2 separate regions of the Homo sapiens genome follow, and region 2 is linked to region 1. Evidence: fine-mapped expression QTL. Tissue or cell type: whole blood. Region 1 holds a variant in brackets; the other region holds the start of a gene. All regions are shown on one strand. Distances are between the middles of the regions.

What was found. PIP is the estimated chance that this variant, and not a neighbour inherited with it, causes the effect.
Region 2: BRD3 starts here. The variant in region 1 is fine-mapped to the expression of BRD3 in whole blood (INTERVAL, PIP 0.96).

The regions. Positions count from the first base shown.
Region 1 is chr9:134,019,174-134,027,262 of GRCh38, reverse strand. BRD3OS (BRD3 opposite strand) reads right to left here and starts at 1,782. Exons shown (of 3, transcript NM_001355256.2): 1 at 1,727-1,782; 2 at 1,173-1,418; 3 at 1-1,055. The coding sequence starts at 515. The coding sequence ends at 261. RefSeq lists silencers at 1,489-1,908, 2,219-2,348. The variant A/G (reference allele first, on the strand shown) is at 4,659.
Region 2 is chr9:134,063,478-134,071,548 of GRCh38, reverse strand. It overlaps BRD3 (bromodomain containing 3), which reads left to right and starts at 3,523. Exons shown (of 12, transcript NM_007371.4): 1 at 3,523-3,604. RefSeq lists silencers at 2,918-3,647, 3,828-4,077 and an enhancer at 8,049-8,071.

The sequences.
Region 1 (8,089 bases):
CTGGAGAATTCAAATGTCACAACAGCTGACCACGGAGGGGACTCTAGAGGGGAAGTGTCCTGTGCACCAGTCACACCGCGGCTGTGCTGAGGGGTTCGGGGGCCAATTCTGCGCTTCTTGGGTTCTTACACCACAGTTTGATCTTCACGTTCATTATTCAAAATCTTCCAGCAAGGATTGGAAATCAACAAGACAACTGAATGAAACTCAGGTCTGTTTTCCTCAAAGTGTGGTCCTGGGTTCAGGTGCTCACATCGGAATTACATAATTGTGCAAAACTTGGACTGCCCTGTGTCCCTAGAGACCTCGAGCTTGTTTTTGTCTCGGACCAAGATGGCCTCATTTCCATACTGTGAGTACCACATGCTTCGGCTCCTGCTCAGGTACGTCCCAGGTGGCACCGACTCCAACTTCTGCTGTTGCTGCTGCCAGATGAGCAAGGAGGTGTCCCTGTACCGGAGGCGGGCGTAGCCTTCAGACAAGGCCTTCTCTGCCAGGGGGACACGGCCACTCATCCCCTCCCCCGTCCCGCTGGACTCCTGGGAACCCTGCTGTTCTGAGACGGCCCACGCGCACTAAATTAACGGACAGCTTTCCCAGCTTTGGGGCTTAAGGATCCCTCGTTTAACTGAATGGTAGAAATTAGGAATTCCGCCCATTTGCAGGCAACGTCCTCAGGAGGGTTGTGTGGTGAGGAAATGAGGCGGCCTCACCATTCTGAAGACACCTGAGACCCATTCAGGGGACCGCACACAGGTCAGAGCGGCGCCCGGCCACAGCTCTTCCGGGTGCAGCTGTGTGGAATTGACAGGGACGAGGCGTCACACCCTGGGGGGTGATTCTGCCACCATGGCCTGGACCACTGAGCTTGAAGAGATGGATCCAGTGCCCTGAGGAAGGGACATGGTGGCCCCAGACGCAAGCTGGAAGGAGCTCCGGTGGCACGCCCCGCACGCATCTGTCCGGGCCAGCTTTCAGGGCAACGGCTGTTCTGACCCACCCTGGGGATCCAGCCCCAGCGTTTGTTCAGGTCTCGTCTCTCCCCAAAGGTGCTGCTGCAAAGGAACGAACGTGCTGTCAGGAGAGGGGAAGTCAAGCGCCCCGGCAGCGGCGGCAGTCTGCAGCGCAGCATCAAGTCTCTGGGGGTCAGCGGCCTAGATCGAGCTACTTACGTCCCGTGGGGCAGCCTGGGAGCTGGGTGGAGAGTGAGACGGGCGCCCAGTGCCAGCTTTTTCAGTCACTGGGAGGTGCTGGGGAGGCTGCTTGTTGGGGCTTCAGGGTCTCCATCTGTGAAACAGGAGCCAGCGGCGCTTGAAAGGGCGCGGGTTCCCGGAGACGCCGCCAGGCGTCAGCCCCGGGACCGGAAGGGGCCCCCAGGGCCGCCTTGCTGCTCCGAGCATCCAGCTCCCGTGAGGCCCCTGGACCCAAACAAAAACGATGTCAGGAGAAAACAAACAGGGAAGCATCGCAACCCACTCCCGAACGCCTTCCCAGCTGCGCAGCGTCAGGGACCTCCCCTCCTGGGATGCCTGCGCTAGGTCAGCCTCAGCTTCCCGGGCCCCCATCGCGCGTCCCCGCCACCTGCGCGCACCCTGGGGTCCCCGTCGCGTGGCCCGCGGCCCCCATCCCCGCGCCCCAGACCCCGCGCGCTCTGGGTCGCCCCATCCTCCAGCCCCCTATCGTCTGCCCGCATCCCCGGGTCCCCCACGTCGCCCGCCCCAGTCACCGCTCGTCGCGGGCCTCGGAGATGCGGGCAGCGGCGCGACGCACTGCGGGGCTCCCAGGGCGGGGCCGGCGGCCGCTGGGCCGTGTCTCCATGGCAGCGCCGCAGGCCTGGCGAGCCGAGCGCAGAGGCTGGGCAGGCGTGTGCGACGAGCCCAAGCCATCGATCGCTCCGCGAGGAGGGGCTGGGCCCGCCCCGAATAGGAACTGGAAGAGGAGGAGGAGGGGCTGGAGGAGGAGGGGCTGGAGGAGGAGGGGCTGGAGGAGGAGGAGGGAGGAGGAGGAGGAGCTGGGAGAGGAGGGGCTGGGAGAGGAGAAAGGGCTGGATGAGGAGGAGGGGCTGGAGGAGGAGGAGGGGCTGGGAGAGGAGGAGCTGAACGAGAAGGAGGAGCAGAAGGAGGAGTGGAGGAGAAGGAGGAGCAGGAGGAGGAGCTGGGGGAGGAGGAGGAGCTGAGAGAGGAGGAGGAGATGGAGGAGGAGGGGCTGGATGGTGAGGGGCTGGGAAAGGAGGAGGGGCTGGGAGCGGAGGTGGGAGGAGGGGCTGGCAGAGGAGAAGGGGCTGAGGAGGTACTGGAAAAGAAAGAGGAGCAGGAGCTGGAGGAAGACGTGGAGGAGGAGCTGGAGGAGGATGAAGAGAAGGAGTGGGACGCCCACAACCCTGTTAGTAAGACACTGCCGGACTGTATGGTCTTATCATCTTGGTTTTCGTATTTCTGCTTGTGTGGTTACTTTTGCCACTGCTGTTACTGCTTTTATTAGTATTCTTACTCTCAGTAATTGATACAATTATTTTTAATTAATTAAATGTCCGGGCTTACTATCTCAAAAATAGGTCTTGAATTTCTCCATCTCATCCAACCAAGCCAGGCCTCTATACTGCTCATTTGGACTCCTCAACAGCCCCATGAAAGCAAGGTCTATTTCCTTTTCTCACTCCACCTCCAATCATACTCCAATAGCACTCTTTTAGTATCTACCCTTTTCCCCTAATTTTATGGTTTTCTCCAATGCCAATTAAGAAAACTAGCATAATGGAACCTGGTGTGGTGGCTCACCTCTGAGTCCCACCTACTTGGGAGGCTGAGGCAGGAGGATCCCTTGAGCCAGGAGTTCGAGGCTGCAGTGAGCCATAATCATGCCACTGCACTTCAGCTGGGACGAAACAGCAAAACCCCATCTCTAAAAAAAAAGAAAATAAGCATAACAGACATCCAAGGAAGATGCTTAGTGTGAGCACTAAGCCCACAGCTGTGGAACGCACATTCTTTTTTTTTTTTTTTTTGAAAGGGAATCTCACTCTGTCACCCAGGGTGGAGTGTGGTGGCACGATCTCAGCTCACTGCAACCTCCGCCCCCCAGGTTCAAGCGATTCTCCTGCCTCAGCCTCCTGAGTAGCTGGGACTACAGGCGCCGGCAACCACGCCCAGCTAATTTTTGTATTTTTAGTAGAGACAGGGTTTCACCATATTGGCCAGGCTGGTCTCGAACTCCTGACCTTGTGATCCGCCTGCCTCGCACTTTCTTCACAAGTACCTACACAGGACGTTTAGCAAAACTGATCACATGCTGGACCATAAATCAGTTTCAACAAATTTGAAAACGTTTAAATCTTACATGATCTCCCAGTCTTCCGACCTGGGAAAAGACAGCAACCGAAGTTATACTGCTTTCAAGAGACACAAGAACAGGCCTGTATTCAAAGACCCATTTAACACTTTTACCTCTATCTGGCTGGGTGCGGTTTTCACGCCTGTAATCCCAGCACTTTGGGAGGCCTAGGCGGTCACATCACTTGAGGTCAGGAGTTCGAGACCAGCCTAGCCAACATGATGAAACCCTGTCTCTACCAAAAATATAAAAAATTAGCCCAGTGTGGTGGCAGGCGCCTGTAATCCCAGCTACTCAGGAGGCTGAGGCAGGAGAATCTCTTGAACCCAGGAGGCGGAGGTTGCAGTGAGCTGAGATTGCACCATTGCACTCCAGCTTGGGTGACAGAGTGAGACCCCATCTCAAAAAAAAAAAAAAAAAATTGCCTCTAAGCTAATATAATTTGTTCTATGCCTTGAACTAAATAATTTGAATATTTAGTTACCTGTAAGCTTCCTTTTCCTGTCGTTGTCAAAACCAAATAGGACTTATATTTCTGTTCGAAACATTTACTTATGTTTTGTTTTCCAGAGTCAAAAAGCTGTTTTTCCTTTTAAGCTATTTTATAGCTACAACAATTAAGTAAAAAATGAAGATTACCTCTCTTTTTCTACCTGATATCTCCAGAATCTGAAAATGATTTAAAATCCCATTGGCTCCAATCTGATTTGATATCAAACACCCTCCCTCTAGGCCCAGGGACAATTGCAGAAGAGGTAAACGCATGAGATTGTAAGGGCTGGTTTCGAGGGATAAAATTTGTTCAGACCCTCTGAATCAAAGATGGTTCACAAATACCTAAATAGCTGATAGCTCAATACATAAAACTTAGAGATAAGTCAATTTTGTAACCTCACGTTTTGGATTTTGGTTTTTGCCTCTTATGTTGCACAAAAGGTTGTTTTTTGTTGTTGTTGTTGTTTGTTTTATTTTGATTTTTTTGAGATGGAATCTCGCTCTGTCGCCCAGACCGGAGTACAATGGTGCAATCTCAGCTCACTGCAACCTCCGCCTCCCAGGTTCAAGTGATTCTCCTGCCTCAGCCTCCCGAGTAGCTAGGGTTACAGGCATGTGCCACCATGCCTGGCTCATTTTGTATTTTTAGTGGAGACAGGGTTTCACTATGTTGATCAGGCTGGTCTCAAACTCCTGACCTCGTGATCCACCCGCCTCAGACTCCCAAAGTGCTAGGATTACAGGCATAAGCCACCGCACCTGGCTGCACAAAAGGTTTTTAAGGGTGAATGAGTGCCTGCCCATCTCCTTTCCTATCTGTCCTAAAACATTTA[A/G]TTAGCTGTCTTTCAGTCTTTTGGCTCTAAGTCTCTTGGCCATAGGGATCCCACCAAGGGACAAGATGGACCCAGTGCAGGTAGCACACAGCCCCAGCAACGATATAGGACAAAATAAAAGTTTGGTCATCAATGCCATCTCTGGCAAATCTTGGCCAAAAGAAGGGAATATAAACTAAAAATAAAATCCTAAACTCCTCACTGACTGAACGGATCCCCTCTTGGCCAAGGGGACCTCAGAAAAAACTTAAAACTGAGTTCCCAGCCACGATGGGATAGGAGAGCCCACTCATGTCGTTATAACTCCTCCCTTTGGTGACTTAGAGACAAGGCACTAGCATTTGCGTTAAAATATGTAAGACTGAAAACATAGAAGACTGAAAAACAGACTCTTTATGGCGATAACATACCAAATTATAAATAAGACCTGTGGCTGGGCATGGTGACTCACATCTGTAATCCCAGCACTTTGAGAGTCCAAGGCGGGCAGATCACTTGAGGCTGAGAGTTCGAGACCAGCCTGGCCAACATGGTGAACCCCCATCTCTACAAAAAATACAAAAATTAGCTGGACATAGTGGCGCATGCCTGTAATCCCAGCTACTTGGGAGGCTGAGGCAGGAAAACCACTTGAACCCAGGAGGTGGAGGTTGCAGTGAGCCAAGATGGCACAACTGCACTCCAGTCTGGGTGACAAAGTGAGACTCTGATTCCAAAAATAAATAAATTAATTAATTAATAAGATTTAGGGCCATGCCAGGCACAAGTTAAGTCCTACACCTCTACAATTAAAGAATAAACTCTATTCTCACTGCCACGAGGTTGTTCCTTTTCTCTAGCAGCTAAGTAAGTACTGACCTCAAGATAAACAATGTTAAAACGATTTGCAGCTCATCCAGCTCCAGATGCTAACTGACCCCATTCACCCACCATAACTAGCTTTCTCTTCTTTTGAAACAGCGTCTCACTCTGTCCTCCAGGCTAGAGTGCAGTGGTGCAATCCTGGCTGAGTGCAGCTTCAACCTCCCAGCCTCAAGCAATCCTCCCACCTCAGCCTCCCAAGTAGCTGGGCCTACAGGTGTGCACCACTAGGTGTACCAGTAGGTCCACCCGGGAGGTGGAGTTTGCACCCAGCTACTTTTTGTATTTTTGGTAGAGATGGGGTTTTGCCATGTTGCCTAGGCTGATCTCAAATTCCTGGGCTTAAACAATCCTCCCATCGTGGCCTCCCAAAGTGCTGGGACTACAGGTGTGAGCCACTATGCCCAGCCAACTACAGCTTTCATTGAACAAGAGACTGATTTCAGCAACTTTCTCCAGGTAAGACCACTGACTATGGATTGGTTCCGGCTGGTTCAGAGAGGCTGCATACTTGTGTGCTTTTGTGTCCTGGAAAGACCTTTTTACTATAAGGCCTAATTTTATTTTATGTATGTATATATTTTTATTTATTTGAGACGGAGTCTCCCACTATTGCCCAGGCTGGAGTGCTGTGGTGCCATCTCGGCTCACTGCAACCTCCGCCTCCTGGGTTCAAGTGATTCTCCTGCCTCAGCCTCCCAAGTAGCTAAGACTACAGGTGTGCACCACGGTGCCCAGCTAGTTTTTTTTTTATTTTTAGTAGAGACTGGGTTTCACCGTATTGGCCAGACCTCAGCCTCCCAAAGTGCTGGGATTACAGGCGCGAGCCACTGCACCCAGCCTATAAGGCCTAATTTTAGTACATTTTGATGCTAAGTCTCCACCCCAAGGTGAACATGAGTTGTATGTTACATGCATGTTTGTTCAGTATGCATGTTGTCAGGACCTTCATGAATATTCATAGCTCCTCCTATAACCTGTTGAATGTGTATGTTTAGCCAACCTGTTCAGCATGGAGCTCCTGCCCCAACCCCTCCTCCTTCAGAGGCACATTTTCCAGCCTGTGGGATGGCCACCTTGCTGGCTGTAACCCTTTATGAGAAAGAAAGTCACCCAGGCGCAGTGGCTCACACCTGTAGTCCCAGCAATTTGGGAGGCCAAGGCGGGCAGATCACTTAAACTCAGGAGTTCAAGACCAGCCTGGCCAACATGGCAAAACCCCATTTCTACAAAAAGTACCTGGGCATGGTGAAAGGCACCTATAGTCCCAGCTACCTGGGAGGCTGAGGCAGGAGGGTTGCTTGAGCCCAGGAGGCAGCGGTCGCAGCGAGTCATGATTGCATCACTGTACTCCAGCCTGGGCAACAGAGTATTTATGGATATTGTGGGGTTCTTTTTTCAATTAACAGTACAAATTCAGGAGAATCTCAGACAAATTATTAAAATTAATAAGACAGGGCTGGGCGAGGTGGCTCACACCTGTAATCCTAGCACTTTGGGAGGCTGAGGCGGGTGGATCACGAGGTCAGGAGTTGGAGACCAGCCTGGCCAACATAGTGAAACCCTGTCTCTACTAAAAATACAAAGAATTAACCAGGCGTAGTGGTGGGTGCCTGTAATCCCAGCTACTGGGGAGGCTGAGGCAGGAGAATCGCTTGAGCCCGGGAGGCGGAGGTTGCAGTGAGCTGAGATTGCGCCACTGCACTCCAGCCTGGGCAACAGAGACAGACTGCGTCTCAAAGGAAAAAAAAAAGTCTTTTTGTTCCTGTCTAGCTGCCCCACCCATTGTCTTCATGTTCCTGGAATATGTGTATAAAAAACAATGGATAGCCAATCAATAGCTTGTTATTTTAATGTAAATTTTTGGTAAACAATTCAGGAACTCCCCTTCTTTTCCTTTAAAAATCCTCTAGTAACCGCTACTAACTGGAGTGGATGTTCAGGGCAACTTGCATGCTCCGGGTTGCAGCCCTCAAGCTTGGCCCAAATAAACTCTCTACTTACATTAATTTTTCCTCAGCTTCTTCCTTTTAGGTTGCAAACCAAAAATAAAATCCTGGCCAGCCATGTTGGCTCATGCCTGTAATCCCAACATTTTGGGAGGCCAAGGCGGGTGGATTGCTTGAGCCCAGGAGTTCAAGATCAGCCTGGGCAGCATGGTAAAACCCCTTTTTAAATAAAAATACAAAAAATTAGCCAGGCATGATGGTGTGTACCTGAAGTCCCAGTTACTTGGGAGGCTAAAGTGGGAGCAATGCTTGAGCCCGAGAGGTCAAGGCTGCAGTGAGCTGTGGTTGCACCACTGTACTCCAGCCTTGGCGACAGAGTGAGACCCTATCTCAAAAAAGTTTTAAGGGCCAGGCACGGTGGCTCACGCCTGTAATCTCAGTACTTTGGGAGGCCAAGGTGGGCAGGTCACCTGAGGTCAGGAGTTTGAGACCAGCCTGACCAATATGATGAAACCCTGTCTCTACTAAAAATACAAAAATTAGCTGGGTGTGGTGGCGGGCACCTGTAATCCCAGCTACTTGGGAGGCTGGGACAGGAGAATTGCTTGAACCCGGGAGGTG
Region 2 (8,071 bases), 44 kb before region 1:
TTCAAGAAACTGATGTATAAACTTCAGTGCCATGATGTAACTGCTCTGCGCCTTAAGGCAGGATTCCCAACCCCTGGGCCTTGGACTGTTACTGGTCCGTGGCCTGTTAGGAACGGGGCCACACAGCAGGAGGTGAGTACTTGTGAGCCAGCATTCCCGCCTGCGCTCCGGCTCCTGTCAGATCAGCAGCTGCATCAGATTCTCACAGGAGCGCAAACCGTACTCTGAACTGCGCACGTGAGGGATCTAGGTTGTGAGCTCCTTATGAGAATCTAATGCCTGATGATCTGAGGCGGAACAGTTTCATGCCAAAACCATTATCTGCCCCCACTCATCCGTGGAAAAATTGTCTTCCATGAAACTGGTCCCTGTTGCCAAAAAGGCTGGGGACTGCTGCCTTAAGGGGCATTGTGGGTGAAGGAGGAGGAGGCAGCTGAGGCCCTGGCTCCTGTACTGGCTGGAGCCTGGCTCTGGGTCCTCCTTTAGATGTGAGCAGGTGGCTGCTTCACTGGTAGAGCTTGGGCTACACTGAGGTTTGCAGATGGAGGCTGGAGGGCAGGACAGAGGTGCAGAAGAGAACATTTATTCATTCAACAACTATGTATTGAGCACCCACTAGGTGCCAGATACTGTTGAAGGATGTTTAGGGATACCTCATGGACAAAGTGCTCTGCTCTCATGGAGCCGTGAGACAGCCCACAAGGAGGCTCAGGAAGTAAAACGTGAAGGTAGAGAGGTGAGTGATGGCCAAGGAGGCAAAGGCAGCAGCCTGCTCCTGATCACAGCCCCAACCTTTGCACATGCCCCCCTCCCTTACCAGAGCTGCGGGATCAGGTTCTATTTTTATCCTCCTGTGACAGGGGAGGAAACCTGGGTCGGGGAGATTAAGTGGCTTCACTTGGGAAATTCAGCAGTACCAGAGGTTAAAATTCCAAGAGCCTGAGCAGGAAGGGAGAGGATGATGGGCTGCTAGGGGCTGGAGGGGACTGCAGAGCCACCCCAAATCCCTTCTCAATGGCAGCCCTGCTGGCTTTCAGCTGTTTGCCACTGTGGCCCCTAAACTAGTCTTCAGAGATAGTAGCACAGGGGCTGAGATGCTCAAATGAGAGTTTCTGTCCTGTTCCCTTACAGATTCTGCTTCCTAGAGACTTCTCCAGCCTCGGGAAAGTTGGCTCCATGGAGCCATCCGGGCCACTCATGTGTGGGTGAGCAGCGGGAAGGGAAAGAAGGGGACCTTGGTGCTTCCATCAGAGCCAGTGCCCAGGGAGCGCCTGGGTTCCTGCCATACTCCTGGGGGTCACCTTAGGGCAGTGGGAGGCCCATAAGGGTTGGGGGCATTTGGTCAGCAGCCTCAGACACGCTGGCTGGTCAGGGCAGCCTGCTGTGTGCATGTACCTGGGTTCCTTGAGGTCAAGACCAGGCGGAAAGGCTTTTTGTTCTAGCCTTGGGAGGAGTGCAGTGGGGTCTGTGTAAGTGGTGAGGTGGCCATCCTGGTGGTCAGAGTGCTCAAGATACCCAAGGAGATGAGATGCAGACAGCAGGAATGGGTTGCAGCCTCCAAGGTGGCTAACACAGAAGCCTGTAGGTTGAGGAACTGCACCGGGGGTTTGGGGACACAACCAGGATGGTAGTTCTAAGGGAACTGCCTGCAGATCCTCACCTCTCATATTCCCCCTCCCCGACCTTCCTGCGCCTGAGGACTGCACTTTGTCCATTTTGCCAACTAGAAAGGCAAGGCTGGAACCTCGTCCTAGAGCCTTGCCCTGGAGTGTGAGAAGGTCCTGGGCTCCCAGCAGAAACAGAGGGACAGGATTGGGAAAGGTGTTGGCTTCCCCTGCAAACTCTTCCTAAGACCCCGGGGCTTTGGGTCTCAGCCGTCCTGCAAATTGGCTCTGTGACCTTGGGCAGGACCCTTTGCCTCACTGAGCCTGTTTCCTTACCTGTCAGCCTGGAACAGAACACCTGCCTTCTGGGTGAGCATGGGGATGAATTGTCTCTGTGCTGGCACTCACTTTGTGAATATTGCATAGATGTGTGCATTTCAGGCAGTGGAGCTGCTGCTCAACTTGGAACACACCTGGGGACCCCAGGGGCTTGGGGTGGGTGCAGCCCACACAAGGAAACTCGACCTTGCAGTTGGCAGGTTCAGCAGGCACCAAGGAACCTCGTTTTGTTTTTGACGTTTTTATTGGGGTCTAATGTACACAACGTGTAACCACCTTAAGTTACAGCTGGATTAAAATTGATTTATGTGGCCGGGTGCGTTGGCTCACGCTTGTAATCCCAGCACTTTGGGAGTCCGCGGTGGGCGGATCATCTCACGTCAGGAGTTTGAGAACAGCCCAGTCAACACGGTGAAACCCCATCTCTACTAAAAAATACAAAAATTAGCCGGGCGTGGTGGCGGGTGCCTGTAATCTCAGCTACTCGGGAGGCTGAGCCAGGAGAATGGCTTGAACCCGGGAGGCGGACGTTGCAGTGAGCCGAGATCGAGCCACTCACTACACTACAGCACTCCAGCCTGGGTGACAAGAGCGAAACTAACGTCTCAAAAAAAAAAAAAAAAAACAAAAACCAAAAAAACAACAAAACCCCCCCCCCCACAACTTGATTTATGTGTAAACCCGAGTCGTCATCACCCAAAACAAGATGCAAAACGTGTCCACGGGCTGAACCTTTCAAGATACAGAAAAAGGGCCAGGGGTGGCCCTCTCCCGGAATCTCAGGCTGGGAACCTGGTATCTAGTTCCCGCCCCTCACTGGGCAGATGGGGAAACCGGGGCTTGGGGCGAGAAGGTCCCCAGGCAGAGCTGGGAGCACCCCTAACTCTTCGCCAGCTCTGGGGACTTGGCGCCCTCTCCAGCAACAGCGAACTTGGGCGCCCGCGCCCCAGCAAGTCGGGTGGGGGAGATGGTGACACGGAGGGCGCGGCAGAGCGCGGCTCCTCCCCGGGCGGGGCCGACCTGCCCGCGCGCACCGACGCCCCGCCCCCCGCCCCGCGCGCGCGCTCCCGCCAGGCTAATTAGGCGCGCGGTTTGTTTACAAACACGGGCTCCCGGCAGGTGCGCGCCGCCCCGCCCGTGCGCGGCCGGGGTTCGAGGGTGGCTCCCGCGGGCCTCGGGGTGCCCGGACGGGGGCTGCGGTGCTGGCTGCGTGCCCGCTTCTTCCATGCCGTCCTGGGGCACCGGAAAATCCGCCGCCAGGCGCTGTCCCCGACACGGGGTGAGGAGAGCCGTGCGGGCCCGGGCGGGGAACGGCCCACGGGGTCCCAGCGTTGTTGCCCTGCCGGGCGGGCGCCGAGCCCCGCCCCCGCGCGCCCCCCGGGCCAGGCCCGCTCTCGGCCGGGTCGGCGGGGCGGGCGGGGGCCCCCGGGGCGGGGCGCGGCGCCGGCGGGGCCGGGACATGTAGTCCGCGCGCCCGCGGCCTCCCCTGGGCGGCCCCGGCGCGGGCCCGGCCGCGGACTACGACTCCCGCCAGGCGCCGCGGCGCAGCGCATGAGCCCTGCTCGGCTCCGGCGCGTCTATTATGCTGCCGGGGCCGGCGAGCCAAAGAGGAGCCGGCCGCGCGGGCCGGGAGGGGACGGCCGCCGGAGCCGCGAGGCCAAGTACGCCTTTCTCTTGCTTCCTTGCGCGCGCGGGGCGGCGGGCGGCGCGGGCGGCGGCGGGCCGGGCTGGGCCGGGGAGCGCGGCCCCGAGCGCCCCGCGCAGTCCGCCGGCGCGTCCGGGTGAACCGGGCGCCCGGGGCCGCCGCCGCCGCCGCCGCCTTTGTGCGCGGCCACGATGCAACAAAGCGCGGCGGCCGCCCGGGGTCGCGGCGGCGGTGGCGGCGGCGGTGGCGCGGGCTCCGCTCCCCTCCTCCCGCTCCCGCTTGGCCGCCTCCGTCCCGGACTCGGGGCGTCGCTGCGGCCGGGGCGCGCAGCCCGGAGTTGGCGCGGCCCGCGCGCCCCGCGCCAGCCCGGCCTCCGCGCGCCCTCCCTCACGGAAGGGATTTTTTTCCCCCTTTCCTCCGCCCGCCATCTTTCGAAGGGGGAACCCAGGGAGGACGCGGAGGGGGAAGGTGCGCGCGGCGGCCCCGGCCTGCGGCCGTGCGCTCCGCGGGGCCACTTTCCCCGCGCCTGTTCCGCCGGCCTCGCTCCCGAGCCGTTGCTGGGGCCCGCGCCTGGGGACCGTCGCCGCGCGCCGCGGCCGGGGCGGGGGGCAAGGCCGGGCTCGGCCCTGGGCTCTGCGCGGCCTCCTCCCAGAGTTACGGGCCCAGAGCTGACTTTGAGCCCCCCTGAGTTGCCGGATTATTGCACCCAAACCAGGGGGAGACCCAGTTCCCGTTTTGAAATCAGCCTGAAAATCGCTTAATCCGGGCGAGGGCGAGTTGGAGCGGGAGGGACGGGGGTGCTTCCCCTCCTTCCCACTTTTGGGGGGCGCCGGAGTGACAACGTGATACAAGCCCATCCGGGGAGAAATGCGCACCCCGAACCGTGTACACCCACATGGCCCTGGTGGGCTCTCTGTGAATAAAGCTGGGGCGTGCGGGAAGTCTTATTCCACCGGTTGCTCGTTCGGGGGCAGGGCCGGGATGGGGGCTTCGCGCGGCCTCCTTTCCCTGGAGGGCGAGAACTCGGCCCGCCGAGACCCACCGGGGGCAGGGACCCGGCGTCCATCGTGTGGGTTCCTCCGTTCGACCCAATCCTTGAGTGGTTGCGATCTTTAATTTTGGTTGAAAGCTTTCTGCTCAGAAATAGATACTGGGATTTCTCCCCCTTACATTAAACTTGGTCATTGTCTGCAAAAGTTAACCAGGAGGGGAGACTGTAGTGCATTGGTGGGCAGAGTAATTGGGCTGGAACTGCAAGAGGCAGCTTCGTGTGTCCCGTCCTCCCCCGCCCTACCCTGTGAGAAGGAACAGAAGAGGAAAAGAGTTTTCTTTTTACCCTGCTCTTTTGTAGGCTTTTCCCCTTACTCTTTTCTTTAAAATGGAGGGTTTTTTTTTTTTCCTGGGTCCATGTAGTATGCCTGGGGAGATCCTGGAATCTATGCAAAGTTGTATGGCATTTTTCTGGGGAAAGTAGTTTGTTACTGGCTTCCAACGGGGTCTAAGGAAGGTCTGAACCCCTGCAAGGGGCTGGCCTCGGGGGTTAGGGAGCCCTCCCTCCGGGTTCTTCCCTGGCAGCCCTGATGCAGCCTCTCATTTGCAAATAAAGGTCTGTGTTTGCCGTTTTCTCTGTTGAGGCCTTGATGGGTGCTGGTGGTTACTGATCATGAAAGATAAGGCACACGCTGTAACAGGACGGGCTGCAGGCGAGCGAGGGGCATTTCTTTCTGACCTTCCGGGTAGCCTCAGAGGCCCGGTGCCTCAGCAGGGCACCGGGTGCCTGGAAAGACTGTGGGAGCAGCTCCAGCCTGAGCCCTGCCGTTGGGACATCCGGGGAGGAGGGATTTCAAAAGCTTTCTCCGAGTGGGCAGTCACTCCATTTTTATTTTTGTTTTGTTTTTAGAAAGTAGAGTAATTACTTTCCTTTGACAACAGCTCGCGCCTGCTTCGGAAGTGAGTGAGCTTTGAATGAAGGACGGGACTTGCAAACAGTGCCTGCCCTACACTCCGAAGTAGTCATACCCAGAAAGTGAAAGTGGGGGTGTGCAGAGCGAAGCAGCCAGGCCTGCTGCAGCCGGTGCTACCTTCCTCTACCCTCTTCCTCCAGGCTCTGGAGATGCCAGCCGCGGGAGCCCTGTGCACCAGGCGGCAGTGATGGCCTTGTGCGATTCCTGGTGCCACCAGGAAGTGCCACCACTTTCCCTGAGGCATGGTGGCTCAGGGTTTCCCAAGTGGGGTGATTGGCACAAAACCAACAGCTATGCCCAGTTGTCGATGGGAAGAGCCATGTTTTGCTGTGGATACACACGGTACCGGGGCGGGGTATGGGGAACCGGGGCCTACTCTTCCCAGCGTTGCTGCCTGGGAGGTGGGGGCATGCCTGAAGTCGTGCTGCGGGTCTCTTGGTTTTCAAAGCAGTTAACGCAGTTGGTCAGAGGATCCTCCTCTTGCTTCCTTGACCGGTCATCAAAGTATAACTGACCTGACGGGGTTCCTGTCCTAGGCAGGTTCCTTTTTTTTTTTTTTTCTCTTCTCCTCTTGAGATGGAGTCTCGCATTGTTGCCCAGGCTGGAGTGCAGTGGCACGATCTCAGCCCACTGTAACCTCTACCTCCCGGGTTCTAGCAATTCTCCTGCTTCAGCCTCCCAAGTAGCTGGGATTACAGGCGTCCGCCACCACGCCCAGCTAATTTTTTGTATTTTTAGTAGAGACAGGGTTTCACTGTGTTGGACAGGCTGGTCTCGAACTCCTCACCTCGTGATCCACCTGCCTTGGCCTCCCAAAGTGCTGGGATTACAGGCATGAGCCACCGTGCCTAGCCAGCAGGTCCCTTATATCACGAAGCCAGTATCTGGTTGAAGCTAGAAGGTAACTGGATGAATCATGGTAGAATGCAAGGCTTCTTGCCGTAAAAGGTTTTGGAACTTGCGGGTCTGCCTTGGGCCTTCCCGACCCCTGTGGCTCCGCCCCCTTGTTGGAGCAGAAGAGATGCACAGGTAGCAAAGCATGATGGGGTGCCAGGTGCATTTGGGTCAGCGTTTGCCAAGAATGGCCTTGCTCCTGTGTTTTTGTTGGTACTGCCACCTTGTAGAGGTGCCCAGCTGGTGGCGGAGCATAGGGTTTTCTTTGCCTATTCTCCTTCCTGTGAAATCATGGGCACAGACATCATGGGCCCCTGTGCCCGGGCCTCCCTGCTCTGGTTCCTGGGCTCCTGCCATCTGAGAGGCTTGAGGGCTTGCTTATTTGTTTGTTTGTTTGTATTTTTAGTAGAGATGGCGTTTCACCATGTTGGCCAGGCTGGTCTCAAACTCTTGGCCGTGAGTGACCCACCCGTCTCTGCCTCCTGAAGTGCTGGGATTACAAGCGTGAGCCACCATGCTCGGCCAAGATGCTTGAGAGCTCATTTATTTATTTACTTATTTTGAGACAGAGTATCACTCTGTTGCCCAGGCTGGTGTGTAATGGCATGATTTCCCTTCACTGCAACCTCCACCTCCTGGGTTCAAGCAATTCTCCCTGGCTCAGCCTGCCAAGTAGCTGGGATTACAGGTGCCCGCCACCACGCCTGGCTATTTTTTTTAATTTTTTTTAATTTTTTAGTAAAGATGGGGTTTCGCCATGTTGGCCGGGCTGGTCTTGAACTCCTGACCTCAGGTGATCCACCCATCTCAGCCTCCCAAAGTGCTGAGATTACAGGTGTGAGCCACCATGCCTGACCGAGAGCTCTTTTAAAGAGAAAGTGTCACTTTGGGCCATTCACCTGTTGGTGGTTTAAATTGTAAGTCTTCTGGCCACTCCTGATTGAGCTCGCAGTGGAGCCAGGACCTGTGCGTGTGGCTGGAGGCTCGGACCCTGTTGTGTCCGTGCTGTTGGCTGTCTGCGTCTCGCACCAGTCTGTGGCTGTTCCCTGAGAGTCAGTTCGCAGGCTGCCTCCTCACAGGGCCTTCGGAGCCTGGTGTTGGGAAGATGGGGCGTGGAACATGCCCCCGCCCCCCTCCTTGCCGCAGGCCCCCAAGGTACTGAGTTCGTCAGAAGTTAATCCGGTATTGTGGGAGACAACTTTTCCAGCCACTTGGAAAAGTGTCCCGCTGAGGGTGCAGTGATGTTCAGGAGTCGCCGGCTGGATCTTTCTGAGTGTGGCTTGATAACCAGCTGCAGCATTTTGCAAAGCACCCAGTGGACTCGGGTGTGATCTGCAGAGGCGGCTGCTGGCCAGGCCTGGAGTCTGGGGCAGAGGGAGTGCCCTCAGTGCACCTGTGAGGACCTGGGACTAAGAGTCGGTACCTGGGAGCTGTGGGACTCTGGGGCGGGACGGCCTTAGCCTCCGTGTGAGCACTGACCGAGATGAGGCACAGATGCATCTGTGTGAGGTGCCCGGCCCCTGCAGGAGTGCTGAGTATTGTAGCTATAACCTGTCATGTGGCAGAAGGAAGAATCTACTATAAGCGGCTGAGAGGATGCCCTCCCTGTGCCATGCGTCACTGGA